3 linked regions of the Homo sapiens genome follow. The protein of the gene in region 2 interacts with the protein of the main gene of each other region in a biochemical or structural test. Each region holds a gene or a part of one and is shown on either strand. Other genes may lie near its edges.

Region 1 (7,032 bases), on a different chromosome or scaffold from region 2:
TTTCTTTATAGGACAACTTATTTTGTGATGGTATTTGTAAATTGGAAGGTTTTTTTTTTTTTTTTTTGAGACAGTCTCGCTCTGTCGCCCAGGCTGGAGTGCAGTGGTGCGATCTCAGCTCACTTCAACTTCCTCCTCCCGGGTTCAAGCAATTCTCCTGCCTCAGCCTCCAGAGTAGCTGGGACTACAGGTGCCTGCCACCACACCCAGCTAATTTTTTGTATTTTAGTAGAGACGAGGTTTCACCGTGTTGTCCAGGCTGGTGGTGAACTCCCAAGCTTAGGCAATCCACCCGCCTCAGCCTCCCAAAGTGCTGGGATTACAGGCGTGAGGCACCACGCCCGGCGAATTTTTTTTTTCTTTTTTTGAGACGGAGTCTCACTTTGTTGCCTAGGATGGAGTGCAATGGTGCAATCTCGGCTCACTGCAACCTCCGCCTCCCGGGTTCAAGCAATTCTTCTGCCTCAGCCTCCCGAGTAACTAGGACTATAGGTGCGCACCACTACACCTGGCTAATTTTTGTAATTTTAGTAGAGACGGGGTTTCATCATATTGGCCAGGCTGGTCTCGAACTCCTGCCTCGTGATCTGCCTGCCTTGGCCTGCCAGAGTGCTGGGATTACAGGCGTCAGCCACTGCACCTGGTCTAAATTTGAAGATTTTTAAACTTCACATCCCTTAATATTTTCAACTTTTATACCTTATAAGGGTCTATTATATTTGTCTAACACTTTATATGAGTACAGCTATTCCTTAAGAATTCACATTTACTGCCTTAAATCCAAATATATTTTTGTCTTTTGAAAATAAAAAACATGCTGGGCACGGTGGCTTACGCCTGTAATCTCAGCACTTTGGGAGGCCATGGTGGGCAGATCACAAGGTCAATAGTTCAAGACCAGCTTAGCCAACATGGTGAAACCCGTCTCTACTAAAAATACAAAAAATTAGCCGGGCATGGTGGTGTATGCCTGTAATCCCAGCTACTCGGGAGGCGGAGGCAGGAGAATCGCTTGAACGTGGGAGGCAGAGGTTACAGAGAGCTGAGACTGTGCCACTGCACTCCAGCCTGGGCAACAGAGCGAGACTCCATCTCAAAAAAAGAAAAAAAGAAAGAAGAAACTTTAGTGACTTGTTAACATACGCATATGAAATTCTAGCATATAACTCATAAAGTTGTACAAAATGACTGAAATTCTCACAAATCAACAGGTTTCCAAAGATTAATAAAACCTCACTAAATTCATCTAGCCTAAGATGCTTAACTTGAATCCATAATCCTTAGTTATAACTTCCAATTTATAGGAAATATAGGAGAAAAAGGAACAAGCTAAATGATACAAGAAGCAACTAGTCAAATCCAGAAAAAGGGATAGCTTGCAAGATAAGTGTATATTATTTTTACAAAGCAGAGGATGGGTTCTGAAAAAGAAAAACTGATATAACCAGATGCAATGCATGATCCTTAAGTAGATACTAATTTGAACAAATCAACTATTAAGGACTTGAGTCAACTGGGGAAATTTTAATATGGTCTGGCCTAGTGGAAGAGTGGGGCTTTAAACACAGATTTTTAGTGCCCTCATTAGTATCCCACCTGTAGTTCCTGTAAGATGCAGCAAAAATTTCTGGCTTTTAATAAAAATGAATTTATCTGGGCATGGTGGCACATGCCTATAGTCCCGGCTACTCGGAAGACTGAGGTGGGATGACTGCTTGAGCACGGGATGGGGAAGTTGCAGTGAGCGGAGATGGTGCCACTGCATTCCGGCCTGGGCCACAGAATGAGACACTGTCTCAAAAAAGTTTATCTCAAATTTTGGGGATTAACAAGGGAAGAGATGAATAGAAATCATAAAACAATATTGGTAAGTGGATCTAAGGCCTTTTAAAACTAACAATGAGAAAACAGAAGATATATATTTTTTCAATGTTGTCATAATGAAGTAATTTATTCTCTATAACCCCAAAGAACACAGGTCAGAAGATCTGCAATACTTACTAGGTTTTATATCCATGTGAACCAAAGACATTGAATGAATATACCTCAAGCCTCGGCCAACTTGCAAAAGGAGATCCTTCAACTCTGCTTCTTTAAAGTAACTCATGATTCTGTAGTTTTCACTTATAGCATCAGCTAAACTTCCACCTAACAAAGATAGAAAATATTAGCATTTTCTTCTTTCTGAAATATTTTCTTTCTTCCATCTTTACCAAATGAGTCTCAACCAACCAATCTCAACCAAGAAAGTGTTATTTTATAGGACCTTCTCCCTTCAACCTGCTTGTGAAATCAAAATTTTATTGTTTTTTCAATAGGTAATACATTTGCATGGGTACAAAATAAAATGTAAAGTCTCTCTCTCAATCATACACCTCAGCAATCCACCTGTTTCTTTCTCAGAGTAAACCAGTATTATCAGGTTGGCTTTTTTTTTGTTTGTTTTTGTTTTTAATTTATAAGAGACAGGGTCTATCTATGTTGCCCAGCTGGAATCCAGTGGCTATTCACAGGCTTGATCCCACTACTTATCAGCATAGGAGTTTTGACTTGTGCTGTTTCCAACTTAGGCCAGTTTACCCCTCTTTAGGCAACCTGGTGGTGCCCCACTCCACAGAGGTCACCATACTGATGCTCAACTTAGATCGGCATAGATCGGCATAGATGCTCAACATAGATCGGCACTACAGCCTAGAATTCCCAAACCCAAATTCAAATTCCCTGCTTCAGACTCCCAAGCAGCTGGGACTACAGGCACTGCCACCACGCCCAGCTCAGGTCTATGTATTCTTTTCAACTTTTTGCATAAATAACAGCATATGTTCATTATCTTAAAGATCACTCTATACCAATATACAAAGACAACCCATTTCTTCTTGTCTTTATAGAATTCCATTGTATAATTGAGTAGAAATGCATTTATTGGCTGGGCACAGTGGCTCACGCCTGTAATCCCAGCACTATGGGAGGCCGAGGCAGGTAGATCACGAGGTCAGGAGTTCGAGACCATGCAGGCCAACATGGCGAAACCCCGTTTCTACTAAAAATACAAAAATTAGCTGGGTGTGGTGGCGTGCACCTGTAATCCCAGCTACTCAGAAGGCAGGAGAATTGCTTGAACCTGGGAGGCGGAGGTTGCAGTGAGCCGATATCGGGCCATTGCACTCCAGCCTGGTGGCAGAGTGAGACTCAGTCCCCCGAAAAAAAAAAAAAAAAAGAAAGAAAGAAAGAAATGCATTTATCAGTCCCTCATTTGATGGACATTTTAAAATTATTTCCAAGCCTTTGCTATTACATACTATGGCCTAATAAATAACCTTGTACATTGGTAATTTCACGTACATTTAGTATATCACCTAGAAGCCAAATTGCTGGGTTAAAGGGTATGCACATTTGTAATATATGGAGATGGTGTGTTTTACACACACACACACACACACACACACACTCTTCTCCACAGAGAAGGCTGTACCAATATATATGCCCATTGTCAATGCATGAGCATACCTGTTTCCCCATACCCTTGACAAGTCTATAAATGTTATAGGTAAAAAGACAGTATTTTAGTATAGTTATAATTTATACTACTCTTACTATGAATGAGACCATAACCTGCTTTTATAGAATTAGTTAAATCAATCAGTTAATTTGTTTATATTTTTTCAAACTTTTAAAGTTTGTATTTCATCTCAAAGGCAATGAGGAATTGTTTTAAATATCTCCTGTTTAAGGCTTAGGAATAAAAAAATCAGAGCTGGGTACTAAAATTAGGAAGGTCAATGATGTATTAGTCAGAAAAGGAGGTCCTATAATTTAAATAAGAAAATAACATAACGTCAAATGTGTTTTTAAAATAAATTATACATCTCGGTATCTTAGTCTTAAGTATGTTCTCCTTACTTGTACAAATCTTGAACTGAGGGAGGGGAAAGAGTGCTCTAGAAGGGAGCAAACCAATAACGCTGTCAGACAAGATAGGCTAAGTCCTAGATCAAATGTGCTAAGAAAGAATATGGCTAATTCTCTTTTTTAGCAGGTCCAGCAACCATAGCTGTGCCCATTTCTTCTCTTATTGCTAGAAGGGCAAGAAAGGTGATGAGAGCAAAACAGGTTCTGACATTTCAGGTTCTCTTTCCCTATCCATCAATATTTTTCTACACTTGTTTATACAGGTTAATTCCAATCTATCACCAAACCAAGATAAAAGGCTTATAATGCAAATGAATAAGATAATAAGGAAATTAAATCACAATAAAGGGAATCAGTTACTCATGTACAAATAAATATCAGAATCCTTTTCCAGTGAAACTGTGGAAAAGATGTGAAGATGAGCCCTATTGGTATATTCAAAGCTTTATGTGGAGAGAGGAACGGTGGACACAGGAAACAAAAGAGATCACAAATGCATCCAGATAGTCGTATTTTCTTTTATCTAAGTAGGACAAATAGCCACACAAAGAGGCAGTCCTGTTTCATGCAGGACTATTTATTTTCTTCAAGAGTTTTATATTGCTTTAAGAGGCCGAGGCAGGTGGATCACGAGGTCAGGGTTCAAGACCAGCCTGGCCAACATGGTGAAACCCCATCTCTACTAAAAATACAAAAATTAGCTGGGAGTGGTGGCGCGCATCTGTAATCCCAGCTACTCAAAAGGCTGAGGCAGGAGAATCGCTTGAACCCTGGAGGCAAAGGTTGCAGTGAGCAGAGATTGCGCCACTGCACTCCAGCCTGGGCGACAGAGCAAGGCTCTGTCTCAAAAATAAATAAATAAATAAATAAATAAATAAATAAATAAATAAAAACTTATTTTCAATAGATTATTTTATAATCTAACATTACAGGACAAGGTTTTTGTAATCTGAGAGGGTAGCAAGACTACTCACTCAGTTCCCTATCTCCCAGGCCCACGTGAGTTTTCTCAGAATCATCTGATTTACACAACCATGTATTGGTAGGTTGCTACATATTTGACATTCCTGGACTACTAATGAACTATTCTGTTAAGAGAATTATTCACATCAAGAAGGTGAGAAAGAGAAAGAAGGAAACTGAAAAGAGATGGTGTCTAACAAATATCAAATGGAGACGACATTGTGGTCAAGTTGTTCTAGGTTAAATGCAATACCTGAAAAATGAAGGTTAAGAAATAGAATAATCCATAAGGTTGTGATAGTTACATAAATATTTTGATGGTATGAATAGAAACATTTCAAGAGCTGTGTGAAAAAAACTAGCAGCAAGGCTGTATACTAGACACTCAAGTTCTTTCAAGTGTGGAGAACTTTATTAAATAATGAGGAATCAGGTTTGAAAAATGGATCTTTTACTTCTGTTTTGTTCACTGTTTTTAAATATGGGGAACCTGAATCCATACCTACACCACTTATTTATTTACAAGTTATGAGATAACTGGTCTTGTTTATTTAAGGAATAATAAGAATCAACAAAAATAAATTTTGTTATCTCCTCTCAAGTGTTCACTAAACTCTAAATTGTCTATATTCACAGAAGATATACAGAAATAGAAACAAACTACAGATATTTTTCATTTCAGACTGGTAATGTGCTGATGTCGTAACAAGGTTTGAGGGAGGCACATTTCACACTTGAGTATGAAAACCCAATCATCACACTTATAAACTACAAAAGTGTTGAGAAATAATCCATAAAAGATTTGGTATATAATAATGACAGACGTCCATAAGAACCAGAATTCTGACCAAGACTTTGGTAAAGGTTTTTAATAGAAAAGGAGAGACATAAGTCGGCCCTTGAAGGACTTACCGAAACTGAAAGCTATACAAGACATCCAAACTTGAATCTATACATGCCTGTTTTGTTTCATCCTTAGGGGAGAGGAGGGAGAGACGACAAGCTAGAGAACTAAAAGAATGTAACATAATAAAGCGTTAGTGGATTCTAGGGTAGACTAGGTTGGATACGTGGGAGTAGGGCCGGACTACAGAATGCTTAAAGAAACAGCTGAATTTAGATCAACAGAGACTCAGTGACTAACAAACATCAGTTTTAGCAGCACCTCACATGAAATGGAAATCAAAGACCAGACACAGGAAGAATCTATTCAACTTAACACTTCATAATACTATATGCTTCACACACTACGCTAGGTACTACGGACACCAAAATATATGTGTCGAGGCCATAGTCTTGTCAAAAAGCTCAGTTGGAGCGACAAGCACATAAATAGTATGCGAAGTTCTACTACTGAGATATGTACAAGGTGCTTCAGAAAGGACAAGGTTTTTAACCTTGTACTTGAAATTTATGTTAGGTCTCTGATCTTTAAATTTATAAAAGATAAAAGTGACAGAAATAGAGCAAGATTTTAGATAACCATAAATATTTCCTCGATGTTCATTTTCTCAAGCTCACAAGAAAACCATTACATCACTCACCATTACAATATTCATTCTGTATAAGCATATGATCATCTTCTGCCCACGCAGAGAAATATCGAACTACATGAGAATGCTGTCCAAGCACTGCATGAGCATATACTTCTCTCAAAGCGTTCTGCCTAGAAGAAATTTGAGATTAATAGAATGGTAAATAATTTTCACTCAAGCTTAAACTGAATTAATTTATCTGAAACTTCATACAATAAATTTTTGGTATCTATTGTTATGCTAAAAAGCAACTTGCTTAAGAGAGAAGGGGTTTAGACTTGTAAGAGATTTTTCCAAAGGCAGATTCCATTAAAGATTTATCAGAAAGAAGAAATGTTGCTTGCCCTAGGACTCAGGTAAGAATAAACTCCATTTTACTGTGAATTCATGGATGCTGACTAGAAATAAGAAATTTAAGTTAGGTTCCAAAATCAGACTCATATTATTCAACAAGTCCAATAAGAACTGATGGTATTAAGTGAAAAGGACCTGATTAAATCATTACAGCTTCTCAAAAGTTAGAGATGGAATTCAGTGTTTGACCAGCTGAAACCTTAATGTTAGTAACACCATAGGGGACAAAAGAGCAAAAGACAAAATGTTTAATACATACTCATCAACAGAG
Region 2 (7,452 bases):
AGTCCAATTATCACCATTTGCAGAGGCAGAAACTGAGATCCAGAAAAGTTAAGAGGGTTTACCACTGTCACACTGCTAGAAATAAAGAATGGAAGTCTTATGACTTACATGTATGTAATGGATTAAATTTAAAATTACATTCTTTTAACTGCTCCTATTTCTAGTAGCAATTAAAGTACTTTTCTCAGAAGTCAAATCTGCAGTCTCCTGTATGTTTGGAGTTCTATCATCTTAAAGAAAAATATATTTATACTTTAAGAAGGTCTCTTTTTATGCCAAACTAAAACCAACACAAATTCTCTGGGAATTTAAGAAACACACTACACAGCATTAGACATACTAATCACATATTTTTAATTCAGCAGCAAAATTTGTTTAGTAGAATGGGTATGAGGTATTTAAGTGATTTAAAAAAAAAATATATATATATATGTATACACACACACACCTCCAATCGAACACCACACTAACTTGTCACTCCTATTCCACTAAATTCCCTCCAGTATTCCCCCTTGTTTTTCACTATTTCTTGTCAAGTGGGGTCTTTGATCACATTAAAAATATAGTTGGGAATTTTCTTCTGGCAGAACCTATATAAACTGGATTCTATTAGCAAATTATTTTGTACCTGGAGAATCGAGAATGTTCTGCTGGAGTCGAGGAACAGGCGAAGGGATATACCCCTCATTTGTGCCATATATAGATCTAAACATTCCTTCAAGTACCACAGAAAGGGAAGGATTATATACATAAGTTATAATTTTAGAATAGCTTAAACATGTCTATATGACAGGTCATTTATACTTAGGGTAACTAAATAGAAATTTTATTTAAATTAGATTAAGTCAATTATTGTAACCAGTCTATAAAGTCTGGATAAAAATATTTATCATCCTAAAAACAATTGAAAGAGACTAAAACTAAAAATATATTATGAAGTTAGCATAATTCTGCAGCCCTAACCTCTGCCCCTCAACACACATGCAAGTTATCAATAGTGTCTTCAAAATACAAGTACTACTATAAGTGTTTAGTATCAGAAGACTGTAAGACTATGGGGGTGAGGCGAACGGTCATTAGGGATTCGGTAATTTCAATTCTCTTGAAATGTGAGCAAATTTGCGTTTATTAAGTAAAGAACATATGTTAATGCACACTGGTACTACAAGACAACTTAATGGTTGAATTTTAATAAATATTTAAATGTGTTCATATTACAGAAGTTGTAGCATTGTTAAATCATTCCATAAAATTTATTTTACTAAAACCACTCACCTTCTCCAATTTTCTCTATTTTGGTATAATCTTCCATAGTTAGTCAATGGGTATGGTAGATCCTAAAGTGAAGGAAAAACTGACTTAATTACATGCCACTAACTCGAGTAGTTTTAAGCATTAATGAAACACTATATGTAAAGCATTTTCCACAGTGCCTACTGCAGCATAAGTATTCCATAAATATTAATTACATTCAAACAATATTTACAAGGGTAAGGACTCCTACAATAACTTTCCATCCTTCTTGACTCCTGAGACATTGGAAACGTGTATATTCTATACTAGTGTAGTATTTAGCTTCTTCCAATCAAAATAACCCTCAAATTCAGGTATCAACTTGTCTATTCTTTCCAAACAAAAACCAGAATTATGTTCCCTTTTTGTGACACTTTAAAGTAGTACCTGCGTGTGCCAAAGTTATACCCAAATATTTCAACAAATTTATACCGCTTTATGATACTCCTAATTTTATTCAAAACATTATTTTTTAAAGTTATGAGGACAGAACTAAAATGTGTTCAGACTGTTCATTAGGAAAATTTTGTTTAAAACGACAAAAACATTTTAAGTGTTTACAGTTGCCCACGTGACAATTTTAATCTTTTTCCTCTGCTTGCTGAGGTCACAGACAAACATGCTCAAGACTTTCAAGGTACTTTTTCCAAGAGTAGGAAATATCACTTAAGCACCGTAAAACAAAAGAATGAAAAGTGCAATTCCACAGATAAAATTCTAATTATAACCTAAACAATGTCAAGGACTAAGCAGAAAAACGGTATACTTGAATCACAATGAATGGGTTAAAAAAAAAAGCTGACAACCAGAAGTTCAAGACTTCCTCTGAAGTTTGCCAATGAAACGTCAGAACTCCAGGCATAATTACCTAGATTTTTCTAACACCCATCACTGATGATAAAATCATTTATAAAGCACACTCAGAATAGACCTTTAAGTTCTATTTCTCACATTCATCTTCAAAGAAAAATCAATCCAGAAAGAAGCAGAGATGTATCTTTTTAAATGAAAAAAACTGCACTACACTGCTCATGAGAGTTAAGTGCCTGGGCTGACTGTTCTTAACAGCTCCAGGTGGGCCGGGGCCGTGGGCAGAGCAAGCCCAAGAAGGCCCACGAGTTCCAGGATCGGTTTCTCAGGGCGGCCTGGCTCTAGGGACCCGCGCCTGTACCTGGCCCAGGTGCGGTCCCACTTTCCCACCCCCGAGGCGGGATGGCAGGGCGCGCAGGGGCCGGGCCCAGGAAAGAGCCTGCTACTCCGCAGGCGCTCAGCGTGGGGGAGCGGATTTTGCTTCAATCAAGACCCGAAAGCCTCTTCAGGCAGTTCCTGAGAACAGCCGACCTCGACTCATGACTGCAGCCCCGAACCCCCACCCCCACGCCGCCTAACCCCGCCAGGCTGGGCTCCCATAGCCTCCCTCTAAAGCCAGCCCAGTGTGGCTCACACGGCCAGACCCAGGCGAAGGCCCTGCCCACCGCCCCCCGAGGCCCAGCCGGGCCCCGCGCAGATCCCTGACCTCCAGTCCGGCCTTCTTAGAGGACCCCGTTCCTCAATACTCGCCCTCCGAGGCCCTCGGCCGTCCCCTAGACACGACCCTGACCCCAGCCACTGTACCCGGCTTATTATTCCGCGGCGGCCGCAGCGGCAGCTACAACAACCGCGTCGCTCTCCGCTCAATTTCCAAGAGCCAGCTTTGAAGCCAAGTGCGAGCAGTTTCAAACTCACCGCGCTAAAGGGCCCCGGATTCACCAATCGGGTAGCCCGTAGACTTTCAAAGCAGCCAATCAGAGCCCAGCTACGCTGGGCAGGCCTTCCCGGGTGGCTAGAGCGCGAAAGAAAGAGGAAAGGGCGGCTAGAGAAAAAGCAGGAGGGCGGGCGCCAACTGAGTGCGAGCGCAAGCGCTCTCCTCCAGTCGGGAGAGTGTCGTCCTACTGTTTCTAGTCAGCGGAGCAGGAAGCTACTGTTCGCTCCGTTCTTCTTTTAAATTTTTTCTCCCAGCATTGGCACAGTTCAAATTTATTATACTCAAAATAGCTCATCAAAAAAGTGATATTGTGTTTACATCGAGATTCCATTACTTTCACTTCTAATACTTAGGGTTAGGAGTGTATAGTTATGTTTTTCTAAATGCGTGATTTGCGGGCTGGCTCCAAGGAGCACATTTCAGTGACCTTAAGAAGGAAATGGAAAACTCAAAAGACCGCCTCAAAAATGTAAAGGAAAATTTATTATTTATATCGCTGTGCTTTGTTTCTACCTCATTTTTGAATTTAATATTAAATTATTTTATTATTTACATTTTGTTTATTATACAATTAAAAACATTTGAAATGTATTAAATTTTAAAATATTTTCACATCAGAATTTTAAATATATAGAGAGAGGCATGCATTTAGAGACTGGGTCTCATTATGTTGCGCATGCTGGCCTCCAAATCCTGGGCTCAAGCAATCGGCCTCAGCCTCCAGCGCAGCTGCGACTACAGGCACTCGCCACCACGCCTGGCTTAAATATAATTAAAACACAAAAATTCACAATTCTATGAGGGGAGAGAAAGAGGCTTAAATTATGCTTTAAATAATCCAGTGTCAAAAACTCTGTCTTCATTGCCATCCATCATATCCTTGAGAGAGATTTCTGCACTTACTGCAGTTAATTTTTTTTTCCTTTTTCTTGTTCTTTCCTTCTTTCTCTCTTTCTTTCTTACTTTTTTTTTTTCTGTTTGTTTGCGGAGACAATGTCTCCTTATGTTGCCCTAGCTGGTCTCCAACTCCTAGGCTCCAGCAATCCTCCTGCCTTGGCCTCCCAAAGTGCTGAGATTACAGGCGTGAGCCACCAGCCCAACCTAAACACCATTCTAAAATCTTTTTAAAATAAACAAATAGAACAGTAAAACAGAGCTAGACATAATAAAAATCCATTTTAAGGATTTCTGGTTGCATTGATCCTAATGGGACATAGAACAAAGACTGATTACCACATCCACTACAAGTATGTATTAGAAGACCCAAATCAGGATATGGAATGGAACTTCCTTACCCTTGTGATATAGAGTATATCACATGCACTTAAGTGTTTAACACCTTTTAACACAATGAGCTGCATCTATCATCTGGTGTTATACATTGCATCTGGCTCAACCTTGACAATTTTTGTTCCTAGGCAACAGAGGCAGAGCATTTGGGAGTCATGGTGTAGGTAGGAATTTAAGAACTCCTGCTGGAGCCTAATCACTTTTAAAACTTATGTTTAAAATCCAAACTTCATTTTTTAAATGAAAACTCACTGCCCCAGAGAAGTGCTCTAGGGAACCAGGCTGTTCTGTGCAGTTTATGGTACTGGTTTTAATGAATTTTAATATGTCTTTCTCTTTGAGAGGCTTAAGAGGAATTCAACTTCTATATCATCTAAAAATGGCAACTAATTCATTATATCCATTTTACCTTTAACATAAAGAAGACCACAAGCTTCCACAGCTGTGATGCTAGGTGTATCAATTTAACTCAATCATCTTTCTTTATAAAGTTTCAGAGGTTATTGTAAATCCATGCTATCATCTTGGCAAATACAGTTTATTACCCTTTGGGCCAACTTCTATGTAGTATCTCCAAAGTGCAACACTGTGCTTCATAGACACAAAAATGAATAAGATACAGTTACCGCTGGAGGTGTTGAGGGTAGGGGAGCAGGATGATAATTGGGAATTCTCTTCTGGTACTTACCTTGTAACTTATGTTACAGGGCAATGTGAGAACCCAGAGGAGGAAACTGCTAATGCTAGCAGAAGTGACATTTGAACAAAGGCTGGGGAAAGGATTCTGGAGTGGGCCTTCCATACAGAGGAAATTGTATAAGTAGAGCACAGAGGCCAGAAAGTCAACCCAGGTAATTCAGGGTGCCCCCCATGGTAGAATGTAGGGAGTACTGCATCCTGTGATGTTAAAGTCAGAGAAGGGAGTTTACAGTCAGAATCCTGATGAGCGCTGAACACTGTTCCAAAGGATCTGAGCAGGAGAGGTACACACAGCCTTGGAACCATATTTTAGGAAAACTACCCTAGAGGTGGTATTAAAAAAAAAAAAACTGCAGAGGAGAGCAGGGGAAGGTATGTGCTCTGAAAAACTTCATATTTGTATTTTGGTAAACTCCATTTTGGAAGGAAAAGAAAAGATCAGTTGGTATTGCACATAAGTCTTTTTGGTTTTGTTTCTTATATTTACGTATTTCTATGGTCTGAATGTTTGTTGTCCCCCCACCCCGCTAATTCATACGTTGAAGGCCTCACCCCACTGGGATGGTGTTTGGAGATGAGGCTTTGGGAGGTAATTAGGTTTAGATGAGGACATGAGGGTGGGGCCCTCGTGATGGAATTAGTGCTCTTATAAGAAGAGACGCTGAAGAGCTTGGTTGCTCTCATGTGAGGTTAGAATGAGAAGGCACCTGTCAGTGAGGAAGTCAGCCCTTGCCAGAACCTGATGTTGCCCGCCCTCTGAACTTGCACACCAAGCCTCCAGAACTGAGTGAAAATAAAATTTTGTTGTTTAAGGCACGTAGTCTATGGCATTTTGTTATGGCAGCCCAGGTCAAGACAAGTGTTTTTTTTAGATAAGAAAAATGTGAGAACATTTGCTTGAAAATACACCTCCGGGCCGGGCGCGGTGTCTCACGCCTATAATCTCAGCACTCTGGGAGGCCAAGGCGGGTGGATCACGTTGTCAGGAGATCGAGACCATCCTGGCCAACGTGGTGAAAACCCATCTCTACTAAAAATACAAAAATTAGCTGGGCGTGGTGGCACATGCCTGTAATCCCAGCTACTCGGGAGGCTGAGTCAGGAGAATCGCTTGAACCCTGGAGGCGAATGTTGCAGTGAGCCGAGATGGCGCCACTGCACTCCAGCCTAGTGATAGAGCGAGACTCCTTCTAAAAAAAAAAGAAAAGAAAAGAAAATACACTTCGGGAAGGAGGTGGAAGAAACTAATAAAAATGTGCCCTCTGTGGAATACAAGAGTGACCTGGTACAGAGGTGGAAAGGAGAGTTTTGTATCTTTTGAATATTGAGCCACGTGAATGTACTACCCTAGCCCAAAAATGAACGAATAAATAAATGAATGAATGAATCAGTCTTGCCAAGGCCTCCATTGCTACTGGATAAAAATGGTAAAAATTGGCCAGGCACAGTGGCTCACACCTGTAATCCCAGCACTTTGGGAGGCCAAGGTGGAGGATCCCTTGAGGCCAGGAGTTTGAGGCCAGCTTGGCAACATAGTAAGACCCTGTCTCTATACAGACAAATATATAAAAAGAAAAAAAAAATTTAAAAGTTGCCGGAAAATGTATGCAAAAGAAGAAGATTTATCCTTTTTCATGTTAATTCAGAAAGGAAAGTGACAGAAAATACAAGATATATAGATTCAGGTCTTTTCACCACAAGTGAAAATACTGAACTATCGTTGCTATGACAGAGTTGGGTGTTTTTCTGATTATAAAAGTAATGTGATTTTTCTGTAAATTTTAAGAAATAATCCAAAGTGTAAAATACAGATAATAAAAGTTTGTCATATACAACCTCCATGCCCCCTATCTTCATTCTCGCCCCACAAAAAGAGAAAGAGATCACTTTAAACCTGTTGGTAGTTGTACTTTAAATGCATACATGTCAACCCACCTTAATCTCTCATTGGAATTTTAGAAACTGGGCATGGTGTAGGGAGAAGAGATTCATATGTCAACCTTGGGACTAATGAGGATCAAGGATAACAGGTGAGTAGCTGTGGATCTTCCACCTAGGTGGGGTGCAAATGTTTACAATGCAATATGGTGAAGACTGCTGTGTGCAGAACATAGTGGAGAGGGCATCAGGCAAGGCTTCATAGCAAAGTTGACTGAACTGAGTCTTAAGGAATAAAAAGAGTTTGCCAAGAAGACAAATGAAGGTGGAGAGCTTGATCCATTGACAAGAAAGAACAATGCAAGTTTGTAGACTGAAATTAATTCAGTACGCTGAACATAAACAGAATCTGGGTGCTCAGCAAGGGTCATAAACATTAGGCTAGGTAGTTAAATAATATCTATACCTTGAAGGTAATGTTCAAGGTCATGCTAAAAGTTTTGGATTAGACGTTGGACTTGAACAAAAAAATGTGAACAAGGCAGTGA
Region 3 (7,356 bases), on a different chromosome or scaffold from region 2:
CTCATCAAAATACAATAAAATATGGTTTTCAAATATGATTAACCCTTTCGGCTTTTCTTTTACTTGAGGGCATATAAACCAAAAATACCCAAACTATGGCTGCACACTTAAACTTTAACATATTTGGTTTATTTTAATGTAACTCAACCATTCTAAATTAATACATAGTTTTCCTTCCTGCATGGTTCTTTGTAATTTTTGTTCCTTTTGACTTATTTTTCTGTTTCAACACAGCTTCCTTCTTCATTTTCACCTCTTTCCATCTGCAAAGTCATCTATCTCCGGGCCCCCAGAACATGTAGTTGAACTCACTCAGCCCCTTGGCATCAGTTTCTGTAATCCTTGCATCAGTGTAGGGAGTAACTGCTTGAGTAACTACAAAGGTATTTCAAAAACTTCAGTGCAATTTGGTTCAGTTATTTTCATTCAGATGCCATCACCGTTCAGGGAGATTAATCACTGGAACCCATTGATCCATGTAGCGACTTTCCCGGCAAAAACAAATAAGTTGACTTAAGGCAGGATCCTTCCATTGAGATGAATGTGGATTCTGGAAACAAATTTATAAAAATAAACTTATTTTAAAAACCAGTATATTCTAGTAATTATACTTTTGAGGAGAAAACACTTGAACATTCTATATTTTGGCTATGTGACATGGAGACAAATTAGAAGCACAAAAAAATTAAAGTTTCTTCAAGGTAGTTGGGTTCCCTGCAAAAGCGTTAAGGGTAATTACCTATTAAACTACACATTGCAAAGTCTGAACCCATGCAACCCAAGCTGAACCACATACATATGTTTGCATATCTGTTCAGTTTTGCATGAGAGTATCATTCACCGGTTTGCTCTACCAAACTTGTTACCCTGACCTGAGTGAAACAGTTTTGAGAAAGATTTCCATGCTGTGTGCACAATGAGATGAGAGCTGCACAGCAGTTAACTGGAATTGCCATCAACCATACTCCAAGAGACAGAATAGTACTTTTAAGGAGTAGCAAAATAATCGGGCTGTCACTTGACTAGACCAGTCAAAAAAGAGCAAAATTTAGAAGACAAAAGTAGCACATTTACCCCTGAAAACATAACTTCCCTACCTACCAAAGGTTTTTATCAGGAAAAAAAAAAAGAGCCATTAAAAAAATGCAAGATTGCAGAGAAAAAAAATTCCACTCTATCCTCTTAATGTATTTCTAGGGAATTAACAAGGTTTGTCTCCTACACAATTTCTATTTTTAGCTCTGACTGGCAGAGAATGAAGCTGACTCCTTAATGAGGGGTGAGCCAGGAATTCATTTGGCTTTATCTAATCTGCCCTGCTAAAGGAATTAGTCACGGGAGGCAGTGCAGATGTAGGTAGGGAGTAGCTGGGCTGACTGCTGACTCACAGGGATCTCTTCCGCTGCTGGCAGTCCCCAGCATGCTTAGACATGTTCTGTACCACAGAAAATCCTGGTGATGAAACTAGCACATCTCGGCTGAAAGTCCAGCCACACTCTAGTCGGACAAAGGCAGCCACCCTCCTGACCCCCACCTACCACAGATCCACAATCAGGCAACCCAGCCCTGACTCCCGTCCTTCCGGGGCTCTACCCTGCAGGCTGCAGTCCCCCAGTCCCTTACCGTCACCAGCACGCAGTGCAGGTCCGGGGGCTGCTCGGCGCCCTCGCTCGCCGCGGGGCCAGCGTCGGTCTCCAAGAGCAGGAGCTCCGCCAGCCGGCCCGGGTTGCTGACGCGCAGGATGTTGATGTCGTTCTCGCAGCAAAACGCCTGGATCAGGGTGAAGTGGATCTGCAGAGCCACATCTCTGTCGTCGTCCTCGTCCGCCGCCAGCAGGCACAACACCACGTTATCGGGGTCGCTGGGGGCAGCGGGCGGGGCCAGTGAGCGCAGAAGCGCGGGCGCCCTCAACCACTGCCCGGGTCCCTGGGGGTCGCCGCCCGGCCCGCTCGCCCCCTCCCTTCCGAGACAGGCAGAAAAGCGACAGGAAGTGGCGCGGCCGGGCGAGGGGCGCCCAGCCAAGGCGACCTCCCGGGCTGGGGCGGGAAGGGGTGCCATGGGGGACGCGCAAGGGCCCCACTTACACGTTGAGCAGCTTGGCCGCTTCGTACACCCCGACAGTGATCGTGCGCTGACTCAGGGCTTTGCTGAGCACTTCCTCCAGGGCATCCCCCACCTTATCCATCCTACACGCGGGCAAGGGCGAGGGGTCCCGTCAGCCCCGGTGCCCTCGGGGCCATCGCCGCCCCCCTCGTCCGGTACCACGCCCCTCCCTCTCGAATGCAAGCACCACCGCGCACCTGGGCTCTACGAAAACCCGGCGCTCCCGCGGCCCCGTCACCCCCCATGACCCCTGCACGCCCAAGGACCGGGCGTCCCGTGAGAAGTCCCGAGAGTGCCCCTGCCACAGGCTGCCAGCCACGGGAGCCGCACGGGCAGCGACGGCCACTGCTGCCCTTTGCAAAGGCCCCGGCGGGGCTCGTTCGGGTTGGGGGGCACGCTCTTTCAGTCCGTGGGAGCTCCACGGAGAGTCCCGAGGGAGCAAGGGCGGGAGTTGCCCTGTGCAAACTTTTTAGCTTCCTCCCCTGCAAGCCTTCCACAGCCCGGCTGCACCGGGGAGCGCGGGGTAGGTAAGAGAAGTTCGGGCCGGAAGAGTCCGCAGGCCGACTCACCTTTCGGTCTTCTGCTCTCCAGCCGAGAATTCCTCCAAAGTCATATTGCAAACTGCAGGTCGCCCAGGGAGAGAGCGCGGCGTGCGGGCTGCTCCTGCCACGGCTAGCGCGCGGGCGCCTGCTTTCTGCACTCACTCACAGGCGCCGCTCCGGCAGCTCAGGCCCTGGCGCTCTCCGGCCGCCCCTCGCCCGCCCGGGCTCCTCCTCCTGTGCCAGCCGCCGCAGCTCCGGCCACCCCTCCCGCCTTGCTTGCTCGCTCGCTCCCCGGACCTCGCCTCGCCACGGGCCGCACGACACTAATTGGGCCGCTGCCTCCCAGCCACTGCCTACCAGCCACTGGAGGACAAAGGGCCCCGCTCTCCGGGGTTATCCTGCCAACCCTCAGCCAACCACCTTCCGCCTCATTTGCATGCAGCTTGGCCATTGGGCTATGCAAATCAGCCTGCTCCAGCAATTTGACCCCAGCTCCTGGAGTCAGGTTGAGAGGAGCGGAAAAGGGAGGAGCCACGCGGGAGGCGAGCCGAGGGGGCGGGGGCGGGGGCGGTGCCGAGAGGGGAAGGCGGGTCCCGCGCGCACTCTTATCCGGTTGGCGGGGACCATTGGGAGTGGGGGGCTTTAGCAGAGGCTAGAGGTGGCCTCAGCTTGGGCTGAAGCAGGCTGCCAAGTGTTTTTCTATAATAGTTGCGGCACTTTTTTCTTATTATCTTTTCATGTCTTTTGTTTTAAGGGGTGGCTATTAAAATCTATTTCCAGGGTTAATGCACTGAAGTCTAGTAATTATTAGTAAGCAGGTTACATTAAAAAAGTGTCTCCAGACCTCCGGGGCAAAGTTTACCTCAGAAGTGTTGTTTATCTAAGTCTAGGCGAAGCTGCTTATTAGCAGTAGTATTATTTCGGTGCCCTGATGGCTGGTTTGATTTATTTTTGGAAAGCTGCAAGGGTTGGAAGCTGAAAAAAGAAAAACCAACCCGTTTGTATTCAGGGATGGCAGGGAACCAAGTTAGAATCTTTTCCACAGAAAGCAGAACGGTTTCCCACCTGCCCGGTGTAACTGGGAAATCGTGAGCTGGTCTGCGTGGGGAGCTGGTGACCACATGTGGGAATCCCTGGCAACCCAGATTCTCCTTTCTCAAAGAGCCTTGCCCAAACAAGGATCCTTCTGGACGCCCACCAGCTGAGAGACAACCATCTGACACCCACACAGCCCACAAGTCTAAATTCAAAATGCTCTCGATATGCCCTAAGCTTCCTTTCCTAACGTATGTATGTCGTTACCTTCCACAGAGAGCCTCCTATGATCTCACTGTGAATTATTGATGTTAGATGCTGAATCATGAAGCTGTAACTATAGGAAGTTTTTAGTCATATGCTAAAATTTCACCTTTGAGATAATGGCAACTTGTAGGTGGAAAGCAGACCTTTAAAACTGCAAATGGTAGTTACACATTTTTGAAAAACAAACTTTAATATATAGACTCTCACTGAGTAGTTCAAAAGTCCCTTCCTTTGTTTTATGGTTTATGCAATAAAAGCAAAAACATTTCTTAAACCTACTGAAGTCATCAAAAGTGGTGAAAATGGCTCCCACATGCTTGCATTCAAAACAGTGCTTGCATTATTAAGGTTGCTGTACAGCCAAAGGTCACAGAAGTAATTTCTGCAAAGGTACCTGGAAGTTTTGCACCCTTATGTTTTTATCACTCTAGACAAAATATTCTCCAGCTCTCTTGATCTTAATTTGGTGGAAAAGAAAAGTGATAGGTTTTCTGGTTCATTTATTTGAGTTGTCATTTTGCACTCATTTTTTCACTGTGTTGTCAGCCATGGACAACATTTGAGTAAAGAAATGGTCATGGTCAGTGCATAATTCACCTAAGCATGACTATGTATCTCATATCTATGCCTTAAATCTTAACATTTGATGTCTTTCTTAAAGAATTCCTCAACATTGAAATTTAGGTAGGTTACCGAAGCATTTTCAGTTTTGCAGACAAAACCTGAATTACACAATCTAGCCTGAGTCATCATTTGGCGATTGTTAATATGTTCCGTGGAACTCCAAGGTTCTATCCACTAGGCATTTCTTAGAGGTTCTTGGGAAGAAAATGTGATCACAGCAAGCTGACAAAGAATTAGGGAATCATGTGAGTTTCTTGACAGCAAGGACTTCATCAGTTTGGTGTCCTCAGCTCCTAGTACAATACCTGCATTTAGTAGAAGCACAGTCAAGGTTTATTGAGTTGAATAGAATTTGAGAGTTAAATAAGATATCAGAATCCTGCAGTCCTGTGCATTGCATGAATTCTAACATATTGCACATTTAACGTTAGTTCAAAAACACTTTTGCCTGTCTTCTTCTATACCAAGAACTGTACAATTCCTGGTCCTTTGCCTTTAAAGAGCTTAGGCTCTTATTGGTATGTCCATGCTTGAACTGGATTTTGGGACAAAATAGTATGCACTGTCATCAGCTAGCTATGCTGAAAGTCCCATGACTTCAGTCATCTGAATGGAGGCTGTAGGACAGTAGAACCGGTGTATTGTTTACACCAATTCAAATGAACCACAGTCCTAAAGTGCCCCACCCAAGTCGACTATATCCAGTAAAAATGTGATATCAAATGGTTACTTCTTATTATAGGCTTAGTCCTCCACTCAAAAATTATACTGCATGCTATATTTGACTTCATCAGAAAGTTATTTGCCCAAGTATTTTGGGGATTTTCTCTGAGATAAGCTTGGGCTTCCAGTATGCAAAAATATTCATTTGTCATACTTTCTGACTCAGATACGTTACATCATTTTGCCTGATTGCTGAGTATACCTAGAATGTTTTCTCAGTGATTATCTTCAAAGTTGGGCCTCATGACTGGAAGTAAAAACTGCATTTAGCTACACAGTTAGATTGTAGTTACACATTAGAATGGACATAGTTGATTTATCATTAACTGTTTATTAGTCCTGGAGGACATTGATAGTCAATGGTAAATCAGAGAAATTTTCCTATATCAATATTATATATATATATATATTTCTTTATAATCAGTGTGATAACTCCAATATGTGATGTCATTTTAAAAACCACTACAGGTAACTCTGACAACTGCCAAGTACACAGGAGTAGAATGCTCTTGTAGTAATGTTTGTAAAGATACCAAATGATTATATTTAGAAATCATATGGAAATATATACTCAAGAATTGTTCAATTATTTTAGCACTGCTACTTGCTTTGCATATTAAAGATCTTTTTGATATTTTAGTCATGCTTATCCTACATACATTCCTACTACTGGTTCCATAATGCAGAATTATTCTTTCTTTCTTTCAAAAAACAATCAATGCTTTAACATCTGAAAGAAATATAATGCTTGTTATTTCAGTATTAGATCATTGTCCACATCAAAGGAGAAGATCAGTTCAACTATGATGGATGTATTTTCCACCTACCTAGAATTGTATTGTATTATTTTTTCTTGTTAAAAATCATAAGGTTCCTGGTCAGGTGCAGTAGCTCACGCCTGTAATCCCAGCACTTTGAGAGGCTGAGGAGGTCGGATCACCTGAGGTCAGGAGTTCAAAACCAGCCTGGCCAACATGGTAAAACCCCACCTCTACTAAAAATACAAAAATTAGTTGGGGCCAGGTGTGGTGGCTCACACCTGTAATCCCAGCACTTTGGGAGGCCAAGGCGGGTGGATCACCTGAGGTCAGGAGCTTGAGACCAGCCTGGCTAAGGAGTTTGAGACCAGCCTGGCTAACATGGTGAAACCCCAGCTCTACTAAAAATACAAAAATTAGCCAGGCGCGGTGGCAGGCACCTGTAATCTTAGCTACTCGGGAGGCTGAGGCAGGAGAATCACTTGAATCTGGAGGTGGAGGTTGCAGTGAGCCGAGATGGTGCCATTGCACTCCAGCCTGGGTGACAAGATTGAAACTCCGTCTCAAAACAAAAACAAAAACAACAACAAAAAACTAGTATAATATTCTTAATGCCATCTTTTTTGTGTGTTCAATAAATCCTTATCCTGTGGAAATTCTCTTCAGCTATTAAGAATCATGGTAGTAATCATAGTGTTAATTTGAGCTTTGGGCTGGCCACCTTGTGCTGCCATCAGCTGCTCACATTTCACCAGCCAAGCAAGGCCCAGCCAGTGGAGAAGTCAGATGAAGAGACTAACTAGAACATTCTTCAAGATCAACACCCCCTAACCCCTCACCTCTCTGTCGGTGCGTATCAGAAGGCTTCTATCATGGGAGGAATGTTCTGAGAGTCTCTGCTTTGTAGCCTAATCACTGGTGAGGGAAGTAGGTGGTCTGAGTTGGTGATTGGCCACTGGTAGGTTGTTTTTGCACCTTGAACAGATTTGTGAGTTTGCTTTTTTTTTTTTCTTTTTTGAGACAGGGTCATCCTCTGTCATCCAGACTAGAGTGCAGTGGCACTGTCATAGCTCACTGCAGTCTTGAACTCCCAGGCTCAAGCGATCTTCCTACCTCAGCCTCCTGAGTACCTGGGACTATAGGCACATGCCATCACACCAGCCTAATTTTAAAATTTTCCAAAGAAACGGGGTCTTGCTTTGTTGCCCAGGCTGGTCTCAAACGCCTGGGCTTAAGCAGTCCTCCCACCTTGGCCTCGCAAAGTGCTGGGATTACAGGTGTGAGCCACTGCGCCCAGCCAATTT

What was found. Proteins that work in one complex are often made in the same cells at the same time.
Region 1: of the proteins of CDK1 (region 2) and WEE1, one has a biochemical effect on the other in vitro, tested with the Homo sapiens proteins (5 studies listed by BioGRID, with this or other methods).
Region 3: the proteins of CDK1 (region 2) and GADD45A form a complex in vitro, tested with the Homo sapiens proteins (5 studies listed by BioGRID).

The regions. Positions count from the first base shown.
Region 1 is NC_000011.10:9,576,648-9,583,679, reverse strand, and holds part of WEE1 (wee1-like protein kinase), read right to left. Parts: coding exon 7,021-7,032; intron 6,539-7,020; coding exon 6,417-6,538; intron 5,653-6,416; exon of another isoform or gene 5,549-5,652; intron 2,149-5,548; coding exon 2,002-2,148; intron 1-2,001. UniProt on the Homo sapiens protein: Acts as a negative regulator of entry into mitosis (G2 to M transition) by protecting the nucleus from cytoplasmically activated cyclin B1-complexed CDK1 before the onset of mitosis by mediating phosphorylation of CDK1 on 'Tyr-15'.
Region 2 is NC_000010.11:60,774,026-60,781,477, reverse strand, and holds the start of CDK1 (cyclin-dependent kinase 1), read right to left. Parts: upstream 3,001-7,452; 5' UTR 2,908-3,000; exon of another isoform or gene 2,810-2,907; intron 1,338-2,809; 5' UTR 1,313-1,337; coding exon 1,276-1,312; intron 1-1,275. UniProt on the Homo sapiens protein: Plays a key role in the control of the eukaryotic cell cycle by modulating the centrosome cycle as well as mitotic onset; promotes G2-M transition via association with multiple interphase cyclins.
Region 3 is NC_000001.11:67,680,855-67,688,210, reverse strand, and holds the start of GADD45A (growth arrest and DNA damage-inducible protein GADD45 alpha), read right to left. Parts: upstream 3,011-7,356; 5' UTR 2,717-3,010; coding exon 2,673-2,716; intron 2,187-2,672; coding exon 2,085-2,186; intron 1,862-2,084; coding exon 1,624-1,861; intron 551-1,623; coding exon 437-550; 3' UTR 1-436. UniProt on the Homo sapiens protein: In T-cells, functions as a regulator of p38 MAPKs by inhibiting p88 phosphorylation and activity.